Homo sapiens: one gene and its partners. The protein of the gene in region 5 purifies or fractionates together with the protein of the main gene of each other region. This does not show direct contact. Each region holds a gene or a part of one and is shown on either strand. Other genes may lie near its edges.

Region 1 (4,601 bases), on a different chromosome or scaffold from region 5:
GGAAGCCAAACAGGTGAGCAACGACAGTACTGGGAAAGGCCTGGGCACAAAAGGGGCCATCCAGGCAGGCTCTTCCCGGCACCAAGGATTGCCCCGTCTCCTCTCACCTTGCCTTCGGCGGTTCCCAATCTTTCGGAAGCTGCTGCCCTCACAGAGCCGGTTCAGGCGCTGCTGCTTGATCAGCTCAAGGATCTCGGGCTGGATCTTCTCCCTCAGCTCCCTGGGGTGGACACACACTGGAGTGAGCGGAAGGTCATGGGGACAGTGGAGCTCTGGAAGGAAAGCAGAGCTGGCAGCCACCTCCCCCGCCAGCCTCCCCTGAGATGGAACTTACACAATTGGCGGGGACTGGAAGTCATCCTGACTCATCCTCTCAGACTGGCGCAGTCGTAGAATCTCAGAGTAACTCAGGCTACGCAATTTGCTCTTGAACTGATCCAAAGAGTTGGGTTTGGAGGGCAAAGCTCGAGTGATTTGCTCTCGGACGACTTGCATAACCTAAGAGGAGAAGAACCCAGCCAACTCACACCACTACTCTTGAGAAATGGACAGGCCTATTATGGAGCACCAAGGCTCTTTCCTGCCCCAGGGTCTTGAGCAGGGCAGGCACTACAGACATCTGCTGGGTGAGTAAGGTATACCTTCTTAGATGGTTATTCAGGTCACATGACTGACACTGATAGATGCTTTATTTCCCATATATTTCAATTGGTCAATGGTGTGGGGGAAATGAGCATGGATTTTTGTAGTCAGAAAGAAATGGGTTCACATCTTGACTCTGTCCCTTCAGCAAGTCACTTAACATCCTTAGGTGTGCATCTACTCATCTCTAAACCGAGAGAAAGGAAGACACATCTCCTGATAGGTGTTGCCATAAAGAATATGAGATACCAGCCGGTTGCAGTAGCTCATGCTTTGGGAGGCTGAGGCAGGCGGATCACCTGAGGTCAGGAGTTTGAGACCAGCCTGGCCAACATGGTGAAACCCCGTCTCTACTAAAAATACAAAAATTAGCCAGGTGTGGTGGCTCACGCCTGTAGTCCCAGCTACTCAGGAGGCTGAAGTAGAAGGATCACTTCAACCTCGGAGGTGGAGGTTGCAGTGAGCCGAGACAGTGCCACTGCACTCCAGCCTGGGTGACAAGAGTGAAACTCTGTCTCAAAAAAACAAACAAAAGAATAGAAAGGCAAGCGCAGTTCTGGCACGCTGTGGTGTTTTAAAAAAATGCATTGGTCCCCTTAAAACAACTATTAAAGAAAACAACAGGATACCACACTGCATGCGCAGTATGATCTTGCTAATGAAGGAAAAACCTGTAGGGGATAAAAAAGACTAGAGGAAAACAAAAATGTTTGTCACTGGATGGTGTAAATACAGGTAACTTTTTATTCTTTATACTTTCCAAATTTTTTATGATGAGATGATCAACTTCAAAACACTCGACCCCTAGATGATCAGCTTTTGAGGGCCTGGCACAACAGTGCTCTGCATAGAGTGAGGACTGAAAGCACCGAGGGATAACTATCGATTAAGTACCCAGGGTGTGCACATCATGCCAGTCCACTCTTCTCTCCTAACCTTCCCAGTTCACAAAACTACAGCAGTACCTGCACAGTAAGCACTCAATAAACCACAGTGAGTCTTCTAATGCTTATCCTCCTGACCTCTCTGGAGGACGGGAGGGACAGGTGCTAACTTCAATGGACAAATGAGGGCCTACGGCACCAAGTGGAAGACAAGCTCAAGGTCACAGAGGGAGCAACAACCAGATGGGGCTGAGGCTCCCCAGTGCCTCAGTCTTGTGACTCAGTTCTGCAGACCAAGCTGCTTTTCCAGCTCAGGGATTCTCCAGGTGCCAGCCAGCTGTCAAAGGCTGTCGTGTGATGGTCTCCTCCCGTGGGCCTCAGAGCAGCCCGGAGACACTGACCTTGTTGAAGTCCTCTGCTGTTGCCCTCATCTCCTTCCAGGTCTTGTTCAACAGCTGGATGCAGATTCCAAAGAGCTCTTCAAAGGCTCGGTCATGGGTAAAGAACATCGGGTGGTAGTCATTGCGTCCTTCATTTGCTGTGGAAGTGAAAAAACAGGGAGAAGATGAAGCCTCTGTCCACAAGGGCCTGGGAGCTCATGTCTGGAAACTTTGCACCAAAGTCCCGAGGAACAAAAGCAGCCTAAGGCGCGCAATTAACAGGGAGCGTGGGATGGGCGTTTCTCACGTCCTTAGCTTTCTTCTCCAGGGTGCATTTTCTTGCCTTCCCTCTACCCTGTTACAGACTCAGCCAGCCCTTACCCACAGGCATGGGGTAGCTTTGGAATATGATTCAAATTGCCAGTTCAAACAAAGCAACAACCATGATTCCCATAAATAAGGATAAGATGGAATTATCAGCTGATGCAGTGATTTAAAACAAAAAACAAAATTAAAAACCCACCTAAGGTTGTCTAGTCCCACTGACATCTTTTTTTTTTTTTTTTTTTTAAGATAGAGTCTCACTCTGTCGCCCAGGCTGGAATGCAGTGGCATGACTATGCTCACCATAGCCTTGACCTCCTGACACAGTGATCCTCCTGCCTCAGCTTCCTGAGTAGTTGGGACCAGAGGCATGCACTACCAGTTGGCTAATTTTTGGTTTTTTTTTTTTTTTTTTTTTTTTTTAGAGATGGGGTCTCACTATGTTGCCCAGACTGGTTTTGGACTCCTGGGCTCAAGTGATCCTCCTGCCTCAGTCTCCCAAAGTGCTGAGATTACAGGTGTGAACCACCACGCCCGACCCCACTGACATGTAACTGTTTATAATTTTGAGTCTCACTGAGCTCTTGATGACAAGGAATGGCTGAAGAAGAGGGAGCTGCAGAGACTTACGTAGTTCCCCAACCTGCAGGATTTCACAGAGCATTTTGGTGAGCTCAATGGCACTGCGGCCAAAGGGGCATTCATGTTTGTCTTCCCGGCTACTGTTCTCCAAGACAATCTGTCGGGGGAAGAGAAAGGGAGGATTAGGGAGATGAAGGAGGAAGGCAGGAGATGTGGCACCAGGACTGAGAAGGCCAGCTCCCCTGCCTTTACCCGGATGTAGGTGTCCTGGTGGACTTTAGCCAAGTACAGCATGTTGTCCAAGGCCAGCATTCCAGGAGGAGTCTGGGTAAAGTCCATGGCTGGATTGATGTGGTTCTAGAGAAATAAAGACACCCAATTTGAGATGCGGCAGTCTCCGTGTATGCAGGGACCTGAGGGGATGCCCTCTCGCCTCTCCTCTTGATGCTGCTACCACTCAGCACCCACCTCTGTCCTAGCTCTTTTCACACCCATCACCACCACTGAACTGTGAGCTCTTGAGTGCTGGACGGTGGCTGCCTCACCATGCATCCCAGAACCTACTTCACATGCTGCTGCACACTGAGTAGGTACGCAAGAAATACTTCTTCCAGTTAACCCCATCCTCAAGCCCTACTCTATCACAAAATATTCACACTAGCTTTGCAAAGAACCTAGCAGTTTGGGTAAGAGGACAGGTCCCCTCTCTACCCACTCTAGCTGACCGCAACCCCCCTACAGATGGATTCGTTTCACAGGGCCAAACTTTGCACATAAACTCACAGACTCACCATCAACAAAGCAAAGCAAGCATTAAAGCTCCACCAGCTTCCTAACTGTCATCTATTCCAGGGCCACCATGGGGTTGGTTGTCAGAGCTCTGTCTGGGTGGGACCATTGACTTCCCATCAGGGGAGAGGGCCTACCACCGTCTATGCTCTGAGGTACTTACGGTAAATCCCAGCATTTTGTAGTCCTTTGTGTACATGGCTTTGCGTTTTTCGGTCCCACTCCCAGGGGCATTGCTAGGATCAGACTCTGCGTCAAATGCAATCCTCCTCAGTTCAAATATGATGTCCCTTTGAGCCTGCGAGGTGAAACAGACAGTCAGCAGGTGAATCGGCTAACCAAGGGAGCAAGGAAAAGAAACAGTGGGTCAGGCTTTTCTGGGCCAAACTTTGGCCCCAATCAATCCCTTAGGAGGCATCACCTCTACCACAGCAGGACAGAAATGGGCTTGGCTCATGGTGCAGATCATGCTAGATTTTCTAGGGCAGATGCAAACTACTTCTGCAGACAAAGACCAAGCACAGTGCCTGGCACATAGACTAAGGCTGGACTGCACCACAGCCATGAGAAAACAGCTGCCCCACTTAGCACCTACCTGGTCATTGGGGTCCATCTTGGTCATCATCCTTTCTTCCAGAAGGTTAAAGGTTAGGACTTGAAGGACATATAGCTGATGGGCCATCTCAGTTTTGATGGGGCGGTTCCCTCGGATCACATGCTAGAAAAAGCACAGGCAGGGAGCAGGGGACTGAACTGATCTCTTTTAATGAAGGGCCACATCCATGCTAAGGAAAAGGAATGTATGTTGGGAAGGGAACAGAGCTTTCCTCCCACACACGAGGACTTCATATTCTAGAAGGCGATGGAGCATGAATGGGCTTGGTTCAGGCAGAGATGACTCACTGCAGGCCTGAAAGGCGCCATCCCTTCCTCTGCATTCCCCTGGGCAGGGGAAGCAGAGTGAAGGCAGGGGCTATACCCAACCACACCAGAAATGGGG
Region 2 (2,563 bases), on a different chromosome or scaffold from region 5:
GGTCAGGTCATCAGATTTGTCCTGCAGGGAGAGCACCCGGTCTTCCCGAAGGTTCTGTGGCTGGAACACACGAGACAGCAGCAGGCGCCGCCCTCTTCTTGGGGCACAGTGGTGAAACCTGCAAGGAACATACCCAGAGAGCTGGCGGCTGCAGGTGGCCAGGGCGGGCAATGCTCTGCATCTTGTCAGCAGCCCTTCCATGACACCCTGGCACCGGGAAGCACAGGCACCTGAGGAAAAATGAGTTGTGTGAGAATGAGCCTCATCCGTGTTCCAACACCATGAAGCAGCCAACCCAGCCTGCTCTCAACAAACTTCGAAGGCAGCCACTGATTTTGCAGATACAAATCCTTCCATTTCTAATATCCTAGCAGATCAAAGCACTATTTCTCTAACCTCTTACTTCCGTTTTTGAAAAATCAATATTTTCCTGATTATAAAAACATTAACAACATCCTGTGGAGAGACAGCGTCATGTAGTGAGTGCACAGGCTCTGGAATCAGGCAGCCTGGATTCCAGTCAGGCCTCCCAATGGCTGCACCCTGTGTAGCTGGGGACATGTGTCTTAACCCCTCTGTGCTGTTTCTTCATCTGTAAAATGGTAATAACAACAGAACCTACCTTCTAGGCTTATTGTGGACACTTAGAAGAGTTATAAAAGTTCTTGGAACAGTATCTGGCATGTACTATGAGCTCAACTAATGTCTGCTATTATTATTATAGAAAACTAGGGGGGAAATCTGAAAACAAAAAAGAAAAGAAGGCTGGGCATGGTGGCTTATGTCTGTGATTCCAGCATTTTGGGAGGCCAAGATGGGCAGATCACCTGAGGTCAGGAGTTTGAGACCAGCCTGACCAACATGGCGAAACCCTGTCTCTACTAAAAACACAAAAATTAGCTGGGCATGGTGACACGCCTGTAATCCCAGCTACTTGGGAGGCTGAGGCAGGAGAATCACTTGAACCTGGGAGGTGGAGGTTGCAGTGAGCTGAGACTACGCCACTGCATTCCAGCCTGGGTAACACAGTGAGACTCTGTCTCAAAGAAAAAAAAAAAGGAAAAGAAAATCAACTGTAATCCCTCAGCCTGGAGTCAACTGCAGCTGACGTTTTGTTGCCATCTGTCTCTTGCAAACCCTGTCCTTTGCACATCCCTCTCTTGTTCCTCTACCTGCCCCCAATATTTAAATGTCATGGGCCTCTTCCCTCTTTACAGCACACACTCCCTGGACAGCCTGCATGCTGAGAGCTGACTCAAAATCTCCACCTGCCTCCTGGAGAATACATCAGGTAGGTACTTCAAAACTCTGTGTCCCAGAATGAACTCAGCATTCTCCCCGCAAACCTACTCCCCCTCCAGCACTGCCTGTCATTGTGAATAGCACCAAAAGTTGCACTTTGCCCAAACCAGAATGTGGGGTTCGCCTGCTCTGCTCCTCTCTGTGTCCCACGTTCACAGCCCTCTTGGCCCTGTCATTCCTACCTCTTCACTTGCTGTTCAATCTGTCCCTCTTCTCTCTACAGCCTCCGCCCAGGTCCAGGCCACCCTCATCTCTCACCTGGATGGTTGCAACAGCCTCCCCACTGGTCTCCTGACTTCCACTCCTGCCCTCCTTCAATCCATTCTCTATACTGCAGCCACAGGGGAGACTTCCCAAGCACAGATGCTAACAGCTTTTCTTGGTTATAACGGCCTCCTGCTACCCTTAGAATAAGGTCTAAGCTTCTGACTTTCAGGGTGTGCACAGCCCCACATAAGCTGACCCCCTTGGGCCTCATCTCACCACTGCCCCCTCTCTGATCAGGCTTTGCCACGCCCACTCTTTTTTTTTTTTGAGACGGAGTCTCGCTCTGTCACCCAGGCTGGAATGTAGTGGCGCGATCTGGGCTCACTGCAAGCTCTGCCTCCCGGGTTCACGCCATTCTCCTGCCTCAGCCTCCCGAGTAACTGGGACTACAGGCACCCGCCACCATGCCCGCTAATTTTTTTGTATCTTTAGTAGAGACGGGGTTTCACCGTGTTAGCCAGGATGGTCTCGACCTCCTGACCTCGTGATCCAACTGCCTCGGCCTCCCAAAGTGCTGGGATTACAGGTGTGAGCCACTGCGCCCGGCCCCATGCCCATTCTTAAACATACTGTCCCTTTTGCACAGAACACCCCTCTCCCCTTTTCCTGCCAACATCTAGCCGTCCTCTAGGCCTCAGGATTACCATCCTCTCCCCAGGAAGCCTTTCTTGTCCCACTCCCCATACCCCCAAAGGGCTGGCTTTTCCCGCATAGCCCACTTGTCTCCTAGGGTTCCTGCCCATTTGGCTGTCTGTCTTCTCCCTGACACTTGGCTCAGTGCAAGCAAGGACCTGTCTAGCTTGCTCACCACTGTATCTTCAGCACATGACAGGGGCTTACTAGACATTGTCCAATAGGCAAGTATGTTTCTCTGATTTTACAAAATAATCACACATTTCTAATGGCAGTACGACATTCCACTGATTACATCAAAAATCAGTAGTTGGTTTTCTCTGTTATACATAATCTACAATGAAGAGAAGGCTTTTTTTGT
Region 3 (4,351 bases), on a different chromosome or scaffold from region 5:
CCAGGTGCTCCCAGGTTGGGGGAGATGTGGTCCTAGCAAAGGGTTGGCAGCCATTGGCTGCAGGGACGGACAGTCAGAGGGACAGACAGATGGCTGACACTAAGGGACAAGTGAGTAGGCACAAGCGGGCTCACTTACCCGGTCGGTGTAGCCTCGGTGGGCCTGCACGGCCTTCCGCAGCAGCTCCACCTTCTGGTGCTCCTAGAGTGGTGAGGGTCAGAGGGAGCTGAAGCACTGTCCCTTCTCTTCTGGCCCACCTCAGTAGCCCACCCCCACCCAGCACTAGATTCTGAGCTCTTTAAGAGGAAATATTGGGGCTGGGAGCGGTGGCTCACGCCTGTAATCCCAGCACTTTGGGAGGCCGAGGCAGGTGGATCCCTTGAGGTCAGGAGTTTGAGACCAGCCTGGCCAACATGGTGAAATCCCGTTTCTACTAAAAATACAAAAATTAGCCGGGCATGGTGGCAGGCACCTGTAGTCCCAGCTACTTGGGAGGCTGAGGCAGGAGGATTGCTTGAACCCGGGAGGTGGAGGTTGCAGTGAGTCGAGATCACACCACTGCACTCCAGCCTGGGCAACAGAGTGAGACTCTTTCTAAAAAAAAACAAGAAAAAAAAAGAGCGAGTATTGCAACTACCAACTCCTTGGTCCTCAGCCAGGGCCTGACATAGGGCAGTTGCTTACTGCCAATGAATAAATGAATGAACAAATGAATGACTCCCTTTTCCTCTTTGGTCCCCAGGAAGCTCAGAGCTAGATTCACGGCTCCAGCTTCTGTTAGATTCCCCGTGCCCACCATGGGGCTGGAATCCTGTAGGTGCTCAATTATTGTGTGTTGACTGAGTGAGCAGGAGGGAGGGGCTCAGGCCCAGCTCACCCACCCTCGCCCCAGACCTCTCACCGTGACGCTGGAGTCATCCATGGCCTTGACAAAGGTGAGTGAGTCCATGGAAGCCGAGCGGATGGTGTCGGTGCGGCCCAGGTGAAACATGCGCAGGGAGGCACTTTCATAGGTGGCACATGCCTGTCCGTAGATCCTGGTGGGAAATGGGGCTAAGCACGCCCCTTGGAGGCGGGCACCCCCTCCCCTGCCCCCAGGTCTCCTCCCTCCTCCATGGGTGGGCCACAGAGGCGCACCTGTAGTAGGCCAGCTGCAAAGCCATCTGGATGAAGGCATCTGGGCTTAGCTTCTCCGACTTGGGGAAGTCTTTTCCAAAATGGTGGAACACCATCACGGTGATATCCAGGTCCTGGATCATGCTGGGGGTGTGGGAAGAGCAGGTGAGGAGCAGGCCCCGGCAGCCCCTGCCAACCCCACGGAGGGTCTGGGTGTCATGACAGAGCTGGCACAGGAGCCTCTCAAGCTCAAGGGCCTGGCCTCACCCATCCAGCACAGGGATGGCGGGGGCAGGCACTTACATGCTGAGGTTCTGCTTGGCCTTCTCGATGTCGCTCTTGATCTCGGGGGTGATGTTGAACCGCAGCTTCTTGGGCATGGGCAGGGGCACCAGGGGAGACCGCACAAGCTCGGGTTTCTTCCTGCACAGTAAACGGGGCCTCAGGCTCATGCTGGTGCCTCTAGAGCCTGGGTCCATTCTGGGACCAGGGTGGGGAGGATGGGTACCTGAAGCTGGAGGGGGCCAGCCCAGGGAGGTGTGAGTTTGTTCTGAAAACCACCCTCACTTCAGCTTTTTTTTCTTTTTTCTTTTTTTTTTTTTTTTAGATGGAGTCTTGCTCTGTTGCCCAGGCTGGAGTGCAGTGATGTGATCTCAGCTCACTGCAACCTTGGCCTCCCTGGTTCAAGCGATTCTCCTGCCTCAGCCTCCTGAGTAGCTGGGATTACAGATGCCCGCCACCTTGGCTAATTTTTTTCTTTTTCTTTTGAGACAGAGTCTTGCTCTGTCACCCAGGCTGGAGCAATGGAACGATCTCGGCTCACTGCAACCTCCACCTCCTGGGTTCAAGTGATTCTTGTGCCTTAGCCTCTTGAGTAGCTGGGATTACAGGCACCCACCACCACGCGTGGCTAACTTTTTTTTTTTTTTTTTTGAAACAGAGTCTCATTCTGTCACCCAGGCTAGAGTGCAATGGTGTGATCTCAGCTCACTGCAACCTCTGCCTCCCGGGTTCAAGCGATTCTCCTGCCTCAGCCTCCCAAGTAGCTGGGATTACAGGCACCCGCCATCATGCCTGGCTAATTTTTGTAGAGACAGGGTTTCACCATGTTGGCCAGGCTGGTCTTGAACTCCTGACCTCAGGTGATCCGCCTCCCAAAGTGCTGGGATTATAGGCATGAGCCACTGCACCTGGCCTAATTTTTTTTTTTTTTTTTTGAGACAGAGTCTTGCTCTGTCACCCAGGCTGGAGTGCAGTGGCACAGTCTCCGCTCAACGCAACCTCTGCCTCCTGGGTTCAAGCAATTCTCCTGCCTCAGCCTCCTGAGTAACTGGGATTATAGGCATGTGATACCACACCTGGGTAATTTTTTTTTTTTTTGTATTTTTAGTAGAGATGGCATTTCACCATGTTGGCCAGGCTGATCTCAAACTCCTGACCTCAATTGATCCTCCCACCTCAGCCTCCCAAAGTGTCAGGATTACAGGCGTGAGCCACCATATCTGGCTGGCTTCCTTGGAAAAAAACAGATTCCCAGGCACAAAGGAGAGTGATATTTCTCTATAAGCTGGTCTATCACCTGTGTGTCACCTGTCACTAGAAGCTGGGGAACTAGGCGAGAGATGTGACTGTACTCACGTGTACTCGATGACATAGTCCAGAAGGGTGACAATAGGGGGCCCCTCCGCTGCAGCATGCTCGTACACAAGCCCACAGGAGCCATCTTCTGCCACGATGAACTGTGGAAGGGAAGGGAGACCCCGGTCAGCCCCAGGGCCCTGGGGGGTGGCCCCTCACCCAACCACTCTTTGGTTGAGGCAAGGGCCTCTCTGAAGCCATCTCAAGGGGCTATGATGACTTATTACTGTTATTAACAATAGCTGACACTCACCAGGTGCCCTGGTGTGCTAAGCACATCCCACGCTCAGCGTGCCTGACTGAGTCCTTCAAACTACTCTACCGGTGAGGTTGACCATCACCCCATTTTACAGGTGTGGAGAGGGACTGTTGTGCCAGGATTGCACTGGTGACCCCGGATCCCAGGTTCTCTGTGAGGTGCTGAGGGGGTGTGCTGGGGGTGACAGCGGTTTCCAGGCCAGAGGCAGGACTGGTGATGACAGGCTGGCTGCCTGGTAATTACGGCAGCGTCCAGCCTGCTGGCTTCCTGCCTGCTTTACAAGCTAGGAGGCTGGGGACGCAGGGCCGGGGACGGGCAGGAAGTCCCGAGGCTGCAGAGGTCCTGTTCAGGTGTGTGTGAGTGGGCGAAGCCCTGCCGGGCCTCACCTGCAGCGTCTTGTCGAACCAGCGGTTGCCGCTGTTGAGCCTGCTGCCGCCCCCATGCAGCATCTGGCCTGCCACGTGGCTGCGGTACACGTCTTCTGAGACCCTGGGCATGGTTGCATCTAGGCACACGGTGAAGATGCTCTTCTGGATGGAGCGCACGGAATCCCGGTTCACCTTGTCTGCAGGTGGCATGGGGCGGGGAGACGCAAAATGGGGTCTCATGGTGTGGGAGAGATGGACCAGCCCCTCCGCAGCCTCCTGCCCTGGGCTCTTCTGACCCATTTGTACCTCTCTGGGATGAGGAGACCCCCCACCTCGCCGGCCCTCCAGGGCATTCACCAAGTGCAGGGTGTGGGTTCAGAGCTTCGAACTCAACAGGACCCTGCAGGCCCACAGCACTCCTCGAGGCAGGGCCCAACACCTGGCCCACTTTAGACACAGGAAACCGAAGCCCAGGGGTCACATGGGAGCTGGTGTGGCAGCCGGGGAACCCACACAGGTGGTCTGACTTTGGGGTCAATGCCCCTGAGCAAGACATGCTTTGGAGGACTGCTGGTACTTGGGGGCACAGGGGGTGTGGAGGCGGGTGGGCTTCTCAGCCAGAGGACTTGGACTCTAATCCTAACTTGCTATTTAGCTGAGAGAAACTACCCTAACCATGAGGTGTCCTCAACTAGGACATGGGGCCCACATTGCCTGCTCCACGTTGAGAGGATGCAGCGGGAAACATGTCTGCCCATGGCTGTGCGGGGCCCAGCATGCCGGGGGAATGTTGGGAAAAGGACTTGTGGGGTGCCTGTATAAACTGGCCATAAAAATAGGGGACAATAAGTTGTGGAAAGCCAGAAGAGGCCACGGAGGAGGAAAGCCTACTAATTGCCATCATGTTCCCATGCTCAGAGCGAGACCCGCTCTCCTATCTGTAAACACTGTGTTCAAGGAGAAAGACACT
Region 4 (5,048 bases), on a different chromosome or scaffold from region 5:
CTAAATGTCTGTCAGTGGGGGAATGGTTAAATAATCTATGGTATATCCATACAGTGAAATACTGTACAGTCATTCAAAAAAATAAGGAAACTATATACTGAAGTGGAAAGATTCCCAAGACATTTTTAAGAAAACAGAGTGTACAGTATGCTACCATTTGTGTAAAACAGTAAGAGGAAAGATATGCATTTCCTTGAATGCCCACAAAAAATGTCTACAATGATATACAAAACTAGTATCAGTGGTTATTCCTTTGGAAGACAGGGAAAATGGTAGCTGGGGGAGGGAGCAGAACCCACCAAAAATGCTCTGATTTGCTTGGAGGAGGGCCCAGGCGTCGGTCTTAAGTTCTGGTGGTTCTGATGAGAGTGTTGGACTGAGAACCACTGCTTAGTGGACAGCCTTTGCCTATTTTCCTAGCTTCATTTTGTGTCATCACTCTCCGTGTTCCTGGCTTCTGGGTTCCCAAAAGCGGCCCTGTTCCTTTCTTCCTCAAGGTATTCACATCTGTTCCTTCTGCCCGGAATATTGTTCCCGTGAGCTTCACCTAGTAACTCCTGTTAATCCTTCACCGTCCACCTCAAAGGTCACTTCCCCATGGAAACTTTCCCCAGTTTCCAAACTACATCAGGACATCTGTTTTATGCACTCAGAGCTGCCTGTACTTCTCCCAGAAATTAACACAATCGTAATGAGATAAATGTATATTTATGCATGTATACATCTGTCACCCTCCTTAGACTATAAGGTCCAGGCATGCAAAGTTGTTTTTACTAATCTATTTCCATACCTAATCTAGTGTCCAGTTGGCAAAACAGGCCTTCAGAAATCTGTTAAATAAATAACTGTTCCCGCCCTCAAGCTTAGTATAGTAAACACCTAAGCAAATGAGGACAATGCTGCGTCACTAGTGTTAAGGCAGCAGTCTGCTCACAACAGTGGTTCTTAACTAAGGGTGATTTTGGTCCTCCTGGGGGACATTTGCGATGTCTGTAAGCATTTTTGATGTTCACAACTGTGTGTGTGGAGTGCTACTGGTATCTATTCCTCAGTAAAGGTTAGAAATGCTGCTAAACATCCTACGCTGCACATGATAGCCCTCCACAACTAGAAATTACCTGGCCTAAAATGTCAACAGAACTACAAATGAGAAACTCTGACTCAGAGGACGATAACACTCAAAAGAGCTGTCAATTGCACTTCTGAGGGTGGTGATTTTTAAATATCTGTTTTCTTTTTGGGGGATGGGGGGTGTCAAGCAAAGCTTCAGGGCAGAGGTGAAGCTTCAGCTGTGTGTTTGAAAGGTAACAGGGGCCAGATCAGTGGGGACTATGTTTGTCAGGAGCAAGGAGGAGTCTCTGAAGAGTTTAAAAGCAAAGTTATGATTTGAACAGGTGCCCCCAAGTACCCTATACTCCAAAATTATTCATTTCCTTTTTTCCTTTCTCGCTGAAACAAAACTTCCATTCTCTCAGAGTAGCTGGTTTCAGCTGAACATTAAGGCCAAATTAATTCAGCCCAAGATAAAGTCAGATAGGCCCTTCACTCTCCAGAATGTTAAGCTACATTTTAAAATATGCAAATACTTATGAGTACAAATAAATCTTTAACTGCTCAATGTTCAGGTTGTCAGTGCATAAAGCTATTTTTGAACTCAACAGCCAGATTGGCCCCAGTAACACTTTCCCAAAGCTTTGTTTTTTAAAAACCTTTTTGATCTGTTTCCCCGTTCTCCTAGAAATCTCCTAGATTTCTGAGCTCCTAGATTGTATAAAAGATCTAAGTTTTTTTCCACAAGTATCTCATGCCATTAAGTTCTTCTGCCAGAGGTGATAAAAGGGCCATTTGGATGCAATAAATGTAAATAAATTGTGTGTGTAAATTAGCAGTGGCTTAGAAAATTTTTAAAAGGCTTTCATGGACTACTGAAAGAAACTGAGATAATTTTTAACATACCACCAAGAAAAAAAAACAACAGTTTTACTACAACACAAGCCGGCTGCCTACTGAACTGGACGCCCATGCTCTGACCTAGTATGGCAATTCTTAGGGTCTAGGCGCTGGGTTCTGTTTACAAGAAACTAAGGCCTGAGACTAAGGAAGAACAAAGAAAAATGCCTGGCACCAAAGGTGTGGGGGATGTTTTGTACATAAATGAAGATTTGAGGAGGAATACTTCCTCAGATGTTGGAAGGAATTACTCTTTTTTTGCTTACGTGTTAAGAATTTAATGTTTTCAGGCCATTTCCTAATTAGAAAATACCTTATAATTTACAAACAATAATTTGTCTTCCCCTACATTTGCTGACCACCAAGACTGGATAAAATTTCCTTAAGCTTTACCAGAGTGGGAGGACTGGGAATAACGGGAGCACAACAGAGTTCGGATGCAACATCAACTCCAAGCCCGGCCAGCTGGTTTCCATCGAGAGGTCCCCCAGGAGAACGCCCCTCCGCGGCGGCGGCGGCCAGGTCGGCGCGGGAGAGACCCACCGAGGCGCTCCAGCGCGGCCGCGGTGCAGGACCAGGGGCCGCCCGGCCTCCGTTTACCTTTGTTTCAGGTACCCCGGCTCCTGGCGGGCCGGGAATCCCGTCCGCGGCCCGGAGCTGGTGACACATCCTTCTTTGGCCAAGTCGGGCCGAGGTTGGGCAGGGGGCGGGGAAGGAAAAGAAAGCCTCAGCGCCTAACGACGTGACTCTCAGTTCTTCCAAAACGCTGGCATTTGTTTCTCTGCCAGGCTTTCCTGTTAACAAGTTCCCGAGGGCTGTGCGGGCGAACTGGCCCAGGAGCCCTGAAAAGTGGGAGGGCCCAGGCCGCCCCCGCCTACCCTCCTCCGCGGGCGCCCCTGGGGCAGGCAATTTCCACACCTCCCTGGTGCCGTGTCCCGGGACCGGCCGGCCGCGCCGAGGCAACGCACCGCACCGCACCGCACCGACTGGAATTCCGACTTCCACAGCCCAATCAGCTCCGTGTGGCCCCTCTGGCCAGGCCGGTCCCCGCCCCCAGGTCCCGGCCCCGCCCGCCCCGGCCTCCGCGCGCCGCCCCGAGCCTCGCCACCCCCTCGGGCCGGGACGAGGGAGCTGAAGGCTCCAGGCCGTGCGGCCAGTGTTCCTTTGCCTACCTCGTTGCCCGCGGCTCCTCCTCCGGCGGCTCAGCTCGCGGGCAGCGCTTGCCTCCAAGCCTCCCCGCGGCGCGGACTCTCGGGCTACGAATGCGGCGCGTGAAGAGCGGAGGCCCGAGCGCGCCCCGCCCAGCCACCCGCAGGCCCCTACCTCCTTCTCCTCCTCCTCCTCCTCCTCCTCGGCCCCACCCTCGGCGGCCGGCCCGCCCGGAGCCCCGCCCACGCGCCAGGCCCCGCCCACTCTCCGGCCCCGCCCCCAGCCTACGCCCCGCCCCTCTGGCCAAGGCAGGAAGGGGGCCTCCAGGGGCGCCGCGAGAGCCGCTGTGGCCTCGGCGAGGGCAGTCTCCTGTATGGCGGCGCCGCGGGGATGCGATTCGTGGTGGTCGCTGCTGTTTGACAGATTCGAGTCTCTTGCTCGGATTTATTACTGTTATTGTCATCGTCAATATTGTCATCGTTGTTATTGTTATCGTCATTAGTTGTGTTGCCCTCTTCAAGGGGCCTTCAAGGAGGCCCCTTGAGGGCAGCGCGCTGCTGGCCAGACATTCCCTGGCGCTCCTGTCTTCCCACAGTCCTGCACCTGCGCCACATTTCACTCAGCCCAAGAAGTTGTGTGAATTTTAAAAGAAGTGATACTTATTTTTAACTGTTATTGTTAACTGTTACTGTTAAATAAAACACAAATATAGACAGCCATATAAAACCAATGTACAGCTTAATGGATTATTCCGATACACACACCCTTATAACCACTCGCCAGATTTATTAATAACACCGTGTAATATGGTCTGCTCTGAAACAGAACCTCATTAATAGCTGGAAGGACATAGCCTGGAAGGGCCTCCCAAAATTGCCCTCCTTCTAACTGCCACAGTACTCAAATGTGACAGGTCCATAATCATGCCCTCTCCAAGAATATATTTGTAAAATGGAAATTTCTCCAGAATTAGGAACCTCCAATTGAGTATCTTCGTAAAAATCTTGATAAAATGATAAATCTATAAATATATAAGCATATAAATAACAATAAATAAGTCAATCAGTTGGGTTGAATACCATGAGTAAGGAGCATGGGGGTGGGGGATGGGAGGTATGTAAAGACTTAAAAGGATTAGGTGGGCTGTGAGGACAGGTCCTGGGCACCTGGGTTGTTCTCACTGTCTCCCCAGCACCTAGCATAGCACCAAGCATATACTAGGTGCCATATGTGTGTGTGTATATATGTGCATTGTACATATATGCACATATATGTGTGTGTGTGTGTATAGCACAAGGAAAGAAAAAATTATGTAAGATAACCCCAAACAAGCTTTACATACTGAAATTTCACCCAAGGTCAATCCTCCCAGTAGCTAAAGTGTGCTCTGTGAGATGCCTTGATGCCCTAGAGAGAAAGAGACCATTTTACTTTCAACTTTCTACTGCTTTTCCATTTCAAAAGCCCTTTCACATGCATATGGTATCTTATTTGAGACTGAGAGCAACTCTGTGAAAAATGCAGGGCAGGATAGGACTCTGCAAAGGTCACAGTGCAATGCATATCAGTAAGAAGGAAAAGTACACAATGTACCATAAAACAATGTTAAAACTGCTGACCCTGGCAACCTGGATTCTTGGTTTGTCTCAACAGTTTTATTGCCAATGTTTTTACATTAGGGCTCCTTTGGCCCTTTTGCCATGCATTTATACACATTATAACTTGAATGTATAAAGGACACAATACGTGACTGGAAATTTGATTCAATACAATAGAGTTAGTCTCTCTGTCATGAGGACCATGGTGAATTGGGGCTAGAGAGTTGCCAATTCACCACAATGTATTGAGTACTCAGACTGTACTAGGTGGTAGGAATACAAATGATATAAAATAAAGAAGATACAGGGGCTGGGCGTGGTGGCTCACGCTTGAAATCCCAGCACTTTGGG
Region 5 (4,601 bases):
ACTACTCGGCCACATTTCAGGCCCAGGGACACTCACGCAGGCACCAAGAGGTCCCCTGGGGAAGCAGGCCTGGGAGGGGCCTGCGGACTGGGAGGTGGGTGTGTGCTGGCTCCATAGGCCCCTTGCCCCTGTGGGGGTTGGCATGGCCAGCAGAGACCAGCATGCGGCCATCAGAATGCAGGGCCTGGGGTGCCACTTGCCAGGGTCCAAGGGCAGTGCTGCCCTCACCAAGCACTGCCAGAGCCATATGGATGGCCTCCACCCGCACGTATCACAACACACGCAGGGCCACCTTGGGGCCATTCTGCTGACCAAGCTAAGCAGGTTTGGCTTAGCTTCTGCCCAAACCATATCAAAAGCTATAATTAGGGCATGTTTTCCCTATTGGTCAAGCTTTTCAAATCTGTCAAGTAAAGCATTTAAAAGGGGCAAAATGTTATAATTTTCTTGTATCCAGGGGAGTCAAAATGGTGTGGGGCATCACGCTTCCATCCCATCTCATCTCACCCCTCGGGGAGCTGAGGGCATGTATGTGTGTGCGTGTGTGTGTGTATGCATGTGTGCATGTGTGTGTCTGTGTGTGCGTGTGCCAACAAGCAAGGGAGCCACTCGCAGCTGGTCTACCTGGAGTGGCCACAGGAAGTATCGAGAATCTCCATTGACTCCTGTCTTCGTGTACATCTCGGCCGTGCCTCCCGTGGTTACGGAAAGGAGCGCTAGTTTACCCTGCAAGGGAGAAAGCAGATGCATTTGTGTGGACTCCAGAAGAGGACAGAAATGTTGCTGAGCCTCCAGCACACGGGCTCAGCACAGCCAGCAGGGAACATGCGTGTGGACACCCTCCAGGGATGGACAAATGCAACACTCCCATCCATAGGTGACAATGACATCCCAAGAGGAGGAGGAGACAATCCAAGTGAATGGACCAAGCAGACACAGAAGCTCTAACATGCCCAGGTTGCTGGTGGAAACCTGGTTTCCATGACACCATGTGTGATGGATACGGCCGAGGCACTGACCACAGGACAAGGTTCCCAGCACACAGGGCTGCTCAGTAAGTGGTAGCACCATTCATGGTCCAAGACACATCTTGGTTACTCAGTATGTTTCCCTTACGTGCATTTATTTTCTGAAGCTTTTAGAATTTAAAAATCGTTCCTTTTTTTTTTTTTTTTTTTTGAGACAGAGTCTCGCTTTGTCACCCAGGCTGGAATGCAATGGTGCGATTTTGGCTCACTGCAACCTCCACCTCCCAGGTTCAAACCAGTCTCCTGCCTCGGCCTCCCAAGTAGCTGGGACTACAGGCGCCTACCACCATGCCCGGCTAATTTTTGTATTTTTAGTAGAGATGGGGTTTCACCATGTCGGCCAGGCTGGTCTTGAACTCCTGGCCTCAAGTGATCCACCCTCCTCGGCCTCCCAAATTGCTGGGATTACAGGCGTGAGCCACTGCACCCAGCCTTAAAAATCATTGTTTTAGTAAGAATTCATAGCTACCACATGTGGCACATCTACCAGATTCCATGCCCTCCTCATCCTGCCACGTGGGTGTCGCATGGTCTTTTCTCACAGCAGGCACATGATGCTCAAGGGGGTGAACTTGTGCCAGGCCAGGGCTGGGCTCTGCACCAGGGAGATACTCTCTCTGGAGCCAGGGCTGGCCACCGGGTTGCCCACATAAGGTTGCCCAGGTCCCCCGTCACCTGACACCTGACCCACTCCCTTGTTTGCCATGCGTGTAGTATGCTGTGGATGTGTTCGCAGCCCCACCAGACAAAAAGCTCCATGATTTCAGAAACGATGCTGTGTCCACCCGTGTGCAGCACATGGTGCTTTGTACATAGTGGGTGCTCAATCGATATTTGCTAAGAAAAGGAAGGAAACTAGAAATATAACTTGATAGAAGACGCATCCTCTGTCCCCTCCCTCCAACTATCCATAGTGATCCTTATCCAAGAGCACATACCTGGAGCAAACCGGAATCGTAGAATCCTGGGATGTCAAAGGCAAAGCCCTGGCACAGCACCCTATCCATCCAGCCCTTCAGGATGGCTGGCACGCTGAACCAGTACAGCGGGAACTGTGGGCGGCAACACCAAAGAGAAACTGAGGCTGCGGCTCGCCTCAGGTTTCCTAGTTTAGTTTATCTGGTGATTCGGAATGAAGCCCACAGCCCTCCTCTTCCCTGGCAGCTGGGCAGGTGAGGGTAACCCTTATGGTCAGCTCTGAAAGGTGCAGTGTGGGTGTCAGACGGGAACGGAGTTGACAATGGTCCTTGTTGCTGTTACAGGTAGCTCTGCATCCCCCAGTGATGACAGCCCCTGATGCTGGCCCTGGGCAGGCAGGGAGGGGACGAGGAGCTGTGCGTAACACCAGCTTTGGAGCAGCAGTCTGTGATCAAGCCAGTCAAAAGGAAGAGTATGGAAAAGCATGCCCCTTCGCCTGCCTGGGGTGTGTTGTTAGCATCTGGAAGTCAGACTGAGTTCGGTGCTGAGCATCTATGGATTTAGACACCAACTAAAGTCATGTTTGTATTCCTTAGACCAGCGCTAAGATCTCCCTATCCCATAGATGCCCTAACATTACATCCAGTGTTACCGCCTGGGAAGGGAAATAAACATAGGCAATCATCTGTTACCAAAGGTGGAAGCCAATGTCTCTTGTGCTTTCCATATAAAACAAACTCAGGACTTGGCATTGAAACCCAAGCTCCACGACCTGCTGCTGTGTGACATTGGCAAGTTACTTGACCTCCCTGTGCCTCCTTTTTCCTGATTCATCAAATAGGGCTACTAATAGTTCACAGCTCACAGCATCCTGGTGAGGATTCGAAGACACACCACAGTGCCCAAAACAGAATCAATGCTCAGTGAGTGGTGGGCTCTGATATTAGTAGTGCAGTAGTGATGAATGAAATTTTTATTAATGTTGAATAAAAGAATAACTTATAATGCAGACCCTCTGGACAAACTATCAGAAAAAAAGGGAAAGTAGGGAAATGGAGTGAAATGAAGTGAAACAAAAGAAAGGCCATTATAGAAAGGCCAGGTCTTAGCCTACCCAGCCACCGGGTTATGGGAGTGGAGTGGGTGCGAGGAGGAAAGCGGGCTCCACGTGGCCGGCCGACCCAAGGGGGACAGGAGAAGCAGAGCAGAGAGCTCAGCGTGGCTCTGCTGGGACCACGCACCCCAGGATACAGGCCCGTCATACTGGCATGGTATTAAGACGGAGATGGTAAACCACATGGTCACCTAGGCCTGAGGACTATGAGTCCACCCACCTGTAATTAGGACAAAGGACGTCCTGCACTTTGGTCAGATTAGCAGCTCAAGGTCACTGAGTAAAGAAAGGGCTGGTGTCGGGAAGGGGTGTGCAGAGGCAAGCCTGGGCAGGGATGAGGCAGCCCTCTTCCCGCACATGCAGGTTGCTTTTATGAAGGCTTGGGAACCTCATCATTCTGGAAAGGTGGTTTTGTCTGGAAAGTGGTCACATGCCGCTCACCCCCTGCCTTGCCCTCACATGGCGGACTCATGCGAACAGTGCTCTCGTTCTCCTGCCCACTCCGCATCCTCAAGCAGGGTTGGAAAACAGAAATGATCTGAACCAATCAGATCCCTTGGTTGGAAATTCTGGATCTAGGGGATCCAGTCCCTGGCAAGCAGTGAGAGAGAACAGAGCCAAGAGGCAGAAAGGAGCAGATGGGAATCTGTGGACGAGAGCAGCTACAGCTCTGTCCTTGGGATCCAGGAGGCCCAAGTGACCAGAGCCCTTATAATAGATTCCCCTTTCCTTCTAGTTGGACAGGAATTTCTGTCACCCAACAATTCCCTCAAAGCTCATGTGCGTACTCTGCTGCCAGGTTTACACAGCCACAGCCATGCCTGCACATCTTCCTTGCAGTGGCGGGAAGTGGCCTGATGAGTCAGCACTCCTGGAGGGCATTTTGCTGGGCCAGTTCACTCTGCAGTGGCATCACCTCCTTGTGAACAAATACAGGAAGGTGGCTGGGCTGGGGGTGAAGCAACCACTGAGAGGGTAGAAACCAGAGATTTTCCTCTTAATGATCAGGATATTTAAGGCAGGATATTTAAGGAGATGCATTTGGCCTGATTTACCCTGATAAACATTTGTGCAGATAAATGTGGTTCTCAAGCAGCCCCAGAATGTCTCAGGGCAGGAACGGGAAGAGAAGGGAAGCAACAAGACTGGCAGGTTTCAGATGATTCTTGGACCACTGGAATAATGGAAATATCCTTCATTCCTATTTACATGGCAGTCGGGATTTGGAGTGAGTGATATTGGCTACGTGGATATCTTTACCCAATTAGGTAAAGTGTTTAAAGTAGTGTTACATCGGCCGGGCGCGGTGGCTCACGCCTGTAATCCCAGCACTTTGGGAGGCCGAGGCGGGTGGATCACGAGGTCAGGAGATCGAGACCATCCTGGCTAACACGGTGAAACCCGGTCTCTACTAAAAATACAAAAAACTAGCCGGGCGTGGTGGCGGGCGCCTGTAGTCCCAGCTACTCGGGAGGCTGAGGCGGGAGAATGGCGTGAACCCGGGAGGCGGAGCTTGCAGTGAGCCGAGATCCCGCCACTGC

What was found.
Region 1: the proteins of NQO2 (region 5) and ELMO2 fractionate together in Homo sapiens (co-fractionation; one large-scale study listed by BioGRID). This does not show direct contact.
Region 2: the proteins of NQO2 (region 5) and PARS2 purify together in Homo sapiens (affinity purification with mass spectrometry; one large-scale study listed by BioGRID and IntAct). This does not show direct contact.
Region 3: the proteins of NQO2 (region 5) and CRAT fractionate together in Homo sapiens (co-fractionation; one large-scale study listed by BioGRID). This does not show direct contact.
Region 4: the proteins of NQO2 (region 5) and PPP2R3A purify together in Homo sapiens (co-immunoprecipitation; one large-scale study listed by IntAct). This does not show direct contact.

What each region holds. Positions count from the first base shown.
Region 1 is NC_000020.11:46,371,472-46,376,072, forward strand, and holds part of ELMO2 (engulfment and cell motility protein 2), read right to left. Parts: intron 4,320-4,601; coding exon 4,197-4,319; intron 3,900-4,196; coding exon 3,765-3,899; intron 3,170-3,764; coding exon 3,065-3,169; intron 2,970-3,064; coding exon 2,861-2,969; intron 2,065-2,860; coding exon 1,928-2,064; intron 499-1,927; coding exon 335-498; intron 221-334; coding exon 108-220; intron 1-107. UniProt on the Homo sapiens protein: Involved in cytoskeletal rearrangements required for phagocytosis of apoptotic cells and cell motility. Acts in association with DOCK1 and CRK. Was initially proposed to be required in complex with DOCK1 to activate Rac Rho small GTPases.
Region 2 is NC_000001.11:54,758,961-54,761,523, forward strand, and holds part of PARS2 (probable proline--tRNA ligase, mitochondrial precursor), read right to left. Parts: intron 231-2,563; 5' UTR 202-230; coding exon 1-201. UniProt on the Homo sapiens protein: Mitochondrial aminoacyl-tRNA synthetase that catalyzes the specific attachment of the proline amino acid (aa) to the homologous transfer RNA (tRNA), further participating in protein synthesis.
Region 3 is NC_000009.12:129,097,112-129,101,462, forward strand, and holds part of CRAT (carnitine O-acetyltransferase), read right to left. Parts: intron 3,579-4,351; coding exon 3,400-3,578; intron 2,856-3,399; coding exon 2,755-2,855; intron 1,540-2,754; coding exon 1,420-1,539; intron 1,261-1,419; coding exon 1,138-1,260; intron 1,038-1,137; coding exon 902-1,037; intron 202-901; coding exon 139-201; intron 1-138. UniProt on the Homo sapiens protein: Catalyzes the reversible transfer of acyl groups from carnitine to coenzyme A (CoA) and regulates the acyl-CoA/CoA ratio. Also plays a crucial role in the transport of fatty acids for beta-oxidation.
Region 4 is NC_000003.12:135,963,924-135,968,971, reverse strand, and holds the start of PPP2R3A (serine/threonine-protein phosphatase 2A regulatory subunit B'' subunit alpha), read right to left. Parts: upstream 3,245-5,048; 5' UTR 3,123-3,244; intron 2,975-3,122; exon of another isoform or gene 2,344-2,974; intron 1-2,343. UniProt on the Homo sapiens protein: The B regulatory subunit might modulate substrate selectivity and catalytic activity, and might also direct the localization of the catalytic enzyme to a particular subcellular compartment.
Region 5 is NC_000006.12:3,013,009-3,017,609, reverse strand, and holds part of NQO2 (ribosyldihydronicotinamide dehydrogenase [quinone]), read right to left. Parts: intron 2,081-4,601; coding exon 1,967-2,080; intron 727-1,966; coding exon 625-726; intron 1-624. UniProt on the Homo sapiens protein: The enzyme apparently serves as a quinone reductase in connection with conjugation reactions of hydroquinones involved in detoxification pathways as well as in biosynthetic processes such as the vitamin K-dependent gamma-carboxylation of glutamate residues in prothrombin synthesis.